Linked DNA regions of Homo sapiens. The protein of the gene in region 1 purifies or fractionates together with the protein of each later gene. This does not show direct contact. Each region holds a gene or a part of one and is shown on either strand. Other genes may lie near its edges.

Region 1 (3,500 bases):
TTTGGTATTTTTAGCAGAGACGGGGTTTCACCTTGTTAGCCAGGATGGTCTCGATCTCCTGACCTCGTGATCCACTCACCTCGGCCTCCCAAAGTGCTGGGATTACAGGCATGAGCCGCCACACCCGGCAAAACAAGCTTTTAAAAAAAGGTATACAATTTGTTTTAATATAGTCTCCAAACACAAGATAATTATGACCTTGGTAAAGCTACTAAAACACCGTTTCCCCATCTGTAAAAGTAACAGAATCTTCATTTCCTGTAATTGCAAAAGCTTAAATAATACATGCAGAGCATTTAACACTGTGTCTGGCACATAGTAAAGCCCTCAATAAATGTAAGCTATCAATTTTGTCTAAGACAGAAACAAATGTGTCTAATAAAATAAGGAAAAGGTGGTACACAGAAAAAAGAACAGGCCAGGCATGGTGGCTCATGCCTGTAATCCCAGCACTTTGGGAGGTAGGCGGATCATTTGAGCCCAGAAGGCCGAGGCTTCAGTGAGCCGTGACCACACCACTGCACTCCACACAGGGCAACAGAGCGAGACCCTGTCTTAAAACAAAAAACAAACAACAACAAAAAGAATGGTGATAGATGGGAAATGTGTTCCTCATAACTATTCTGCTGTAATTCGCTGGTAGCTACGAATTAGCTGTAAAGAGTTGGTAGCAACAGAATGCCTACCTTATGACCTGGAACAATTAAGATAGTTTTATGTTAATGGAATTCTGTAAAAAAAAGATTTACAAATAGCCAATAAACACATGAAAAGATGAACATTATCATTAGCAGTGAGGGAAATGCAAATCAAAACCACAAGGAGATGAAGACTTCATATCCACTAAGATAGCTGTAATCACAAAGACAGATGTTAACAGTATTATTGCTAAGGATGTGCTGAAATTGGAACCCTCACACATTGCTGGTGGGATTGTAAAATGGCATGGCTAATTTGGAAAACAGTTTGGCAATTACCCAAAATGTTGCTACTATACTGCCCCACAATCTCACGCTTAGGTATATATCCAAAAGAAACAAAAACATACGTCCACACAAAACTTAAACATGAATATTCATAGCAGCATTATTCAGACTGCTTATTATGATTCCACTTGTGTGAAATATTCAGAACAGGCCAATATATAGTGAACTGCATATGTAAACTGTATCTCAATAAAAAATTAAATACCACTGCAGATAAACTTGAAGAATCAAAGATAATTTACTTTTAAATTCTTTTATTTTATTATTATTTTTTTTTGAGACGCAGTCTCGCTCTGTCGCCCAGGCTGGAGTGCAGTGGCGCGATTTTGGCTCACTGCAACCTCTGCCTCTTGGGTTCAAGTGATTCTCCTGCCTCAGCCTCCCGAGAAGCTGGGACTACAGGCTAAGTGTTGTATTTTTAGTAGAGACAGGGTTTCACCATGCTGACCAGGCTGGTCTCAAACTCCCAACCTCAGGTGATCTGCCTGCCTCCCAAGGTGCTGGGATTACAGGCATGAGCCATCTCGCCCAGCCTGCTTTTAAATTCTTTACAACAGATTACTTTATCTGTGTAATTCCACAAACTAGGCATAACTCTCCTCCAGAAAGCTTAGTTACCTACTGATTTTTCAGTTACACATACAGGCAAAAAGGTTTTCTTTAAAAGTAGATTTTGTGAACAAGTTAAATATCAAAACCACTAAACTAAAGAGGTCAACCAGAATGAAAGTCCCCAGCTCCCCCCACCCTTTTGGTGGAGGTTGCAGTGAGTCGAGATTGCTGAACTTTAAATGCTACTTGTAGTTTGTTTTTGAGACAGAGTCTCACTCTGTCCCCCAGGCTGGAGTGCAGTTGCACAATCTCGACTCACTGCAACCTCCACCTCCCAGGTTCAAGCGATTCTCCTGCCTCATCCTCCCAAAGTGCTAGGATTACAGGCGTGAGCCATCGTGGAACGGCTATAAATGATACTTGTATATGACCTTGGGAACATCACTTCAGCCTTTTAAATCTGAAGTTTTCCCCTGTGTAAACATGAACTATCATCACAGATGCTATTTTCCTCAATGGATTGTTCTGAAGATTAGCACAGAATAGAAGGGCACAAGAAACACAATTAAGCCCACTAAGCCAATCAGAAAACTGGGCTACTTACTAATGCAAGTGGAAATGAGAAGTAATTCCTGAACACTATCAATTTAAGTGATTCCTGTCTTTTCTGTCTCTACTCTTCCGCACCAGATGAGTTTATTTTCCATAATTTTCAGAACTATCCATTTAATACCAGAGATACTTTCAGAATTTACATAATCAAAATATTAACCTTCAATCTATACATCACCAAATTGTTTTAAAATGTAATAAAGGCCAGGTTTGGTGGCTCACGCTTGTAATTCCAGCACCTTGAGAGGCCGAGGTCAGCTGATCACAAGGTCAGGAGGTCGAGACCAGCCTGGCCAACATGGTGAAACGCTGTCTCTACTAAAAATTTTTTAAAAAATTAGCTGGGCGTGGTGGCACGCACCTGTAATCCCAGCTCCTCGGGAGGCTGAGGCAGGAGAATCACTTAAGCCCTGGAGGCAGAGGTTGCAGTGAACAGAGATCACGCCATTGCACTCCAGCCTGAGCAACAGAGCAAGACTCCATCTCAAAAAAAAAAAAAAAAAAAAAAATACACACACACACACACACAAAATTGGCCAGGCGTGGTGGCTCACGCCTGTAATCTTTGGGAGGCCGCGGCGGGTGGATCACTTGAGGCCGGGAGTTCGAGACCAGCCTGCCCAACATGGAGAAACCTTGTCTCTACTAAAAATACAAAATTAGCAGGTGTGGTGGCGCATGCCTGGAATCCCAGCTACTCAGGAGGCTGAGGCAGGATAATTGCTTGTACCTGGGAGGCGGAGGTTGCAGTGAGCCGAGATTGCACCATTGCACTCCACCCTGGGCGACAAGAGTAAAACTGTCTCAAAAAAAAAAAAAAAAAAAAAGTTAAAAAAAAAAAAAATCAGAATGAAGGTAATACTGGGGAAAAATAAGCATTAAGACCAAATAAACCAGGCCAGGCTTGGTGGCTCAGGCCTGTAATCCCAGCACTTCAGGAGGCTGAGGTGGGCAGACGACCTGAGGTCAGGAGTTCAAGACTAGCCTGGCCAACACGGTGAAACCACATCTCTACTGAAAATACAAAAATTAGCCGGGCATGGTGGAAGGCACCTGTAATCCCAGCTAAATGAATATGGTGTACTTATTTATGAGTTTAGTATATATGATGGCTGGGATTTAAGATATTGTAGGTAAGGCTGGTTTAGTCTAACAGTCTGTCTAATTCAAACTGTCAAGTGATTAATGGGGTTGTGTCCCCAAGTAACTTTCATTTCCTACTTTATGTATTTTTGTAATGCTTGACCTTTACTTCTGAAATCGAATGGTTTCAAAGCATCGAGACAATCAATCACAGCTTATGACAAATTCCAAAGGGACTACAAATTCTTTTACTGGACTAAATTTTAA
Region 2 (3,500 bases), on another chromosome or scaffold:
CAGGCATGTGCCACCACGCCTGGCTAATTTTTGTATTTTTAGTAGAGACGGGGTTTTACCATGTTGGCCAGGCTGGTCTCGAACTCCTGACCTCAGGTAATCCACCCACCTCAGCCTCCTAAAGTGCTGGGATTACAGGCGTGAGCCACTGCACCCAACCTATTTTTTTATTTTTTATTTTAAAGAGACGGGGTCTCACTATGTTGCTCACGTTGGTCTCAAACTCCTGGGCTCAAGTGATCCTCCCACCTTGGCCTCCCAAAATGCTGGGATTACAGGTGTGAGCCACTGCACCTGGCCTTTCCTCTCCAGCCTTTGCCCCCTCTTGACTCCTCCTGAAATTCCTTTGCTCCATTATTGCCTATCAGAAGCTTCCCTGCTCCTCAAGCCCCAGCAAGGCTGCCCTGGACACTCGCATGAGTCTCATCTCTGCCAGCTGTGCCTCCTCAGCTGCACCCTTCTCACGGCACCTCCTGCTTTCCCCCTCCTGCCAAACCCGTGTCTTACTCTCCACGGGTGATACAGGGCCACCCTCAGGCACGTCTGTGTCCCCCCAGAGCCCAGCCTGTGGCAGCTTCATAGGGAAGAGGACTCTGGTCTCATCCCAGACCTCACAGGGAGAAGGAAGGGAAGGTAGAAGGTCAGGGCCCAACAGGGACAGCAGGCTCTCTCTACCCAGCACTTCAGGCTGTGGGGCAGTCCTTCCTTCAGCGGGGTGAGAAAGACGCTACCCACTCTCCCGGCTGAGGCAGAAGGCCCTGCCGCTACCATGAACAGCTCTGGGGTACAGGGAGAGAACGAAGGCCTGTGTCCCCTCCTTTCAGGGTGCCTAAGGGGCCCCAGCAGCCTCTTCCCCCTGCCATGGGGCAGACACCACACACAGGCCCTCTGGTGCCTGGCAGAAGGACCTAACAGTTGGTGGGGGCTCACCTGTGGTGAAGAGGTGCTTGACGGGCTGGTCTGGGGGGCTCTTCATGCCCCCAGGGGCAGCAGGGGAGGACTGGGTACGGCCCAGGGCCTGGTGGGGCACAGTGGCCAGGCTGAGGGGCGCCTGGTACACCTGCAAAGGCTGCAGCGGCTGGGCATCTGAGAACAGCTGGAGGGGAGAATGGGAGGGGGCCTGGGTCAGACTCAGCCAGGACAGGGGTGAGGGCAGGCCCTGTCAGGGCCTCCAGTGGGGCCCCAATCCAGCCCTTTTCTTCCAAGTCTCCTTCCCCCACCTCCTCCCACTTGCTCCCTCCAGGGACAGGAGACACATCTCCTCTGAGATGGGGAGGGATGGGGGAGATGTGATGAGTCACATCAAAGAGTAGCATTGAGGTAAGAGGCTGGGAGGGGTGGGGGCGGGGGCGGGGTGGGGGCGGGATGAGTCAGGCCCGGAGGGCTCGGCTGTGTCCGCAATGAATGGAGTGCCAGCTAGGCGCGAGGCAGACAGTAGTAACAGCGGGGGCGTGTGTGTACACACACGCACAGGCACGCACAGGGACCGACGCATGCATACACAGACACACAAGCAGAGAGGCAGGCCAGTATCACAGACACAGGGAGGGAACTGGCAGCCTAGGACAGACACAACTCTGAGATCAACACAAACAGCTCCCCCTTCTCCCCACCGGCCTCCTTCCCACTCCCCTTTTGCTCTCTACAGAAAGCTGCTCCTGCACAGCCTGGAAACTGCAGATGGGGGAGAGGGAAAGACAAGGGCAGAGGCAGGGGTGGAGAAGGACAGAGGGGTGGTGACCAAGGACTGGGACCAGGGACGGGGCTCACTTTTTTGTATCCAGCACCAGGCTCCTCCAAGTCGGGCCCCTCCTCAGCACCACTCTCGCCCTCCTCGTCCTTAACCTGGATGCAATCCTCCTCCTCCTCCCCATCGTCTTCCTCGTCCTCCTCCTCCAGGTCTTCCTGTGTGCTCTCACTCTCTGTGGAGCCCTCCCGGGGCATGGTCAGGGCTCCCTCCCCCAGCAAGACCTCCTGCTGCTCCGTCAGCTCCTCCTCTGTCTCCTCAGGGTGGGTGGTGGGCTGCCTGGGCAGCTCCCCTGTCTTGGTGAGGATCTGATAACAGAATATGGGGGCACATCAGCTGGGAGTTGGGGAGCAGCTGTGCAGCCTAAAACCCAGAACAGTCTATCCTTCCCTCCCTCCCTTCTTCCAGGTAGAGCTTCTATGTGAATTAGAAAAAGGTGAGGTAGCTCCTCTGAGAGGACTTTTTTTTTTTTTGAGACAGAGTCTCCCTCTGTCGCCCAGCCTGGCATGCAGTGGCACGATCTCGGCTCACTGCAACCTCCGCCTTCCAAATTCAAGCGATTCTCCTGCCTCAGCCTCCCCAGTGACTGGGGTTACAGGCGCACGCCACCACGCCCAGCTAATTTTTGTTTGTTTTTTTGAGACGGTCTCGCTCTTCTCACCCAGGCTGCAGTGCAATGGTGCGATCTGGGCTCAGTGCAACCTCCATCTCCCAGGTTCAAGCAATTCTCCTGCCTCAGCCTCCCGAGTAGCTGGGATTATTATAGGTGCCTACCACCACGCCTGGCTAATTTTTGTATTTTTAGTAGAGACGGGGGTTTCACCATGTTGGCCAGGCTGGTCTCGAACTCCTGACCTCAGGCGATCTGCCCACCTCGGCCTCCCAATCAGGCGCGAGCCACCGTGTCTGGCCTGAAAGGAGGACTTTTCTGCCAGCCTGGTACTCTCCTGTGTCCTGCCCCCACCACAGCCCCAGGCCATTCACCTTTCCAGGCTCACCTTGCCCAGCTGTAGCTGCTGCTGCTTCTGCTTCTCCAGGAACTGCTGGTGCTGTTGTTGCATGACCAGCTGCTGCAGGGCCTGGGGACTCTGCGGCAGCGGTGAGGACTGAGTGCGGCTCAGGGGCCGATGCCGCGGGAGCTTGCCTACCGTCCGCATGCTGGTGGCCACACGTTCACCCGTCACTAGTGGGGACTGCCCGTGGAGTGGCACTACGGAGTTGGGGGTGATGACTAAGCACCATTGTCAGGGCACCTGACTGCCCTCCCACCGACCCTGCATCTTGCCCCCACAACCCCCTCTGGCATATCACCACCTATATACTCAGGAAAAACCCTGGGGGACCTGAAGCACCCCCCACCCAAACCTGAGCTCCATTCTTCCTCTTCCCCATGAATGAAGAGTTTCACAGCTCTAAGGTACCACCTCCAGCAAGCCTTCCTGGATTCACCATCTTTTCCCTTCGATTTCCTTAACTGAATAAACTGAGTATACATTTAGTCTTGAGCCCTCTGAACGAACAATGACTTTTCTCCCTAAGTGCAACAAGGCCTCCCTGATCATGGATCCTCCCCGTGGATCCCGCCAGGCTAGGAAGCCCTAGGGCCAGGATCATGTATCTTTCAAGCAGAACCTCTTCTGGTGCCAGGGCTCTTTAGACAGCCCTGGTACTTAAGGGCTGTCTAAAGTTGTGCTGTCTAGTCCCATAGCTACTAGTTACATGTGACTGCTGAGCCCTTGCACACAACCTGTCT

Evidence for each region. The genes of interacting proteins can lie anywhere in the genome.
Region 2: the proteins of REST (region 1) and HDAC5 purify together in Homo sapiens (affinity purification with western blotting; 2 studies listed by BioGRID, with this or other methods). This does not show direct contact.

The regions. Positions count from the first base shown.
Region 1 is NC_000004.12:56,914,400-56,917,899, reverse strand, and holds part of REST (RE1-silencing transcription factor), read right to left. Parts: intron 1-3,500. UniProt on the Homo sapiens protein: Transcriptional repressor which binds neuron-restrictive silencer element (NRSE) and represses neuronal gene transcription in non-neuronal cells.
Region 2 is NC_000017.11:44,085,642-44,089,141, forward strand, and holds part of HDAC5 (histone deacetylase 5), read right to left. Parts: intron 2,958-3,500; coding exon 2,746-2,957; intron 2,056-2,745; coding exon 1,771-2,055; intron 1,097-1,770; coding exon 931-1,096; intron 1-930. UniProt on the Homo sapiens protein: Responsible for the deacetylation of lysine residues on the N-terminal part of the core histones (H2A, H2B, H3 and H4).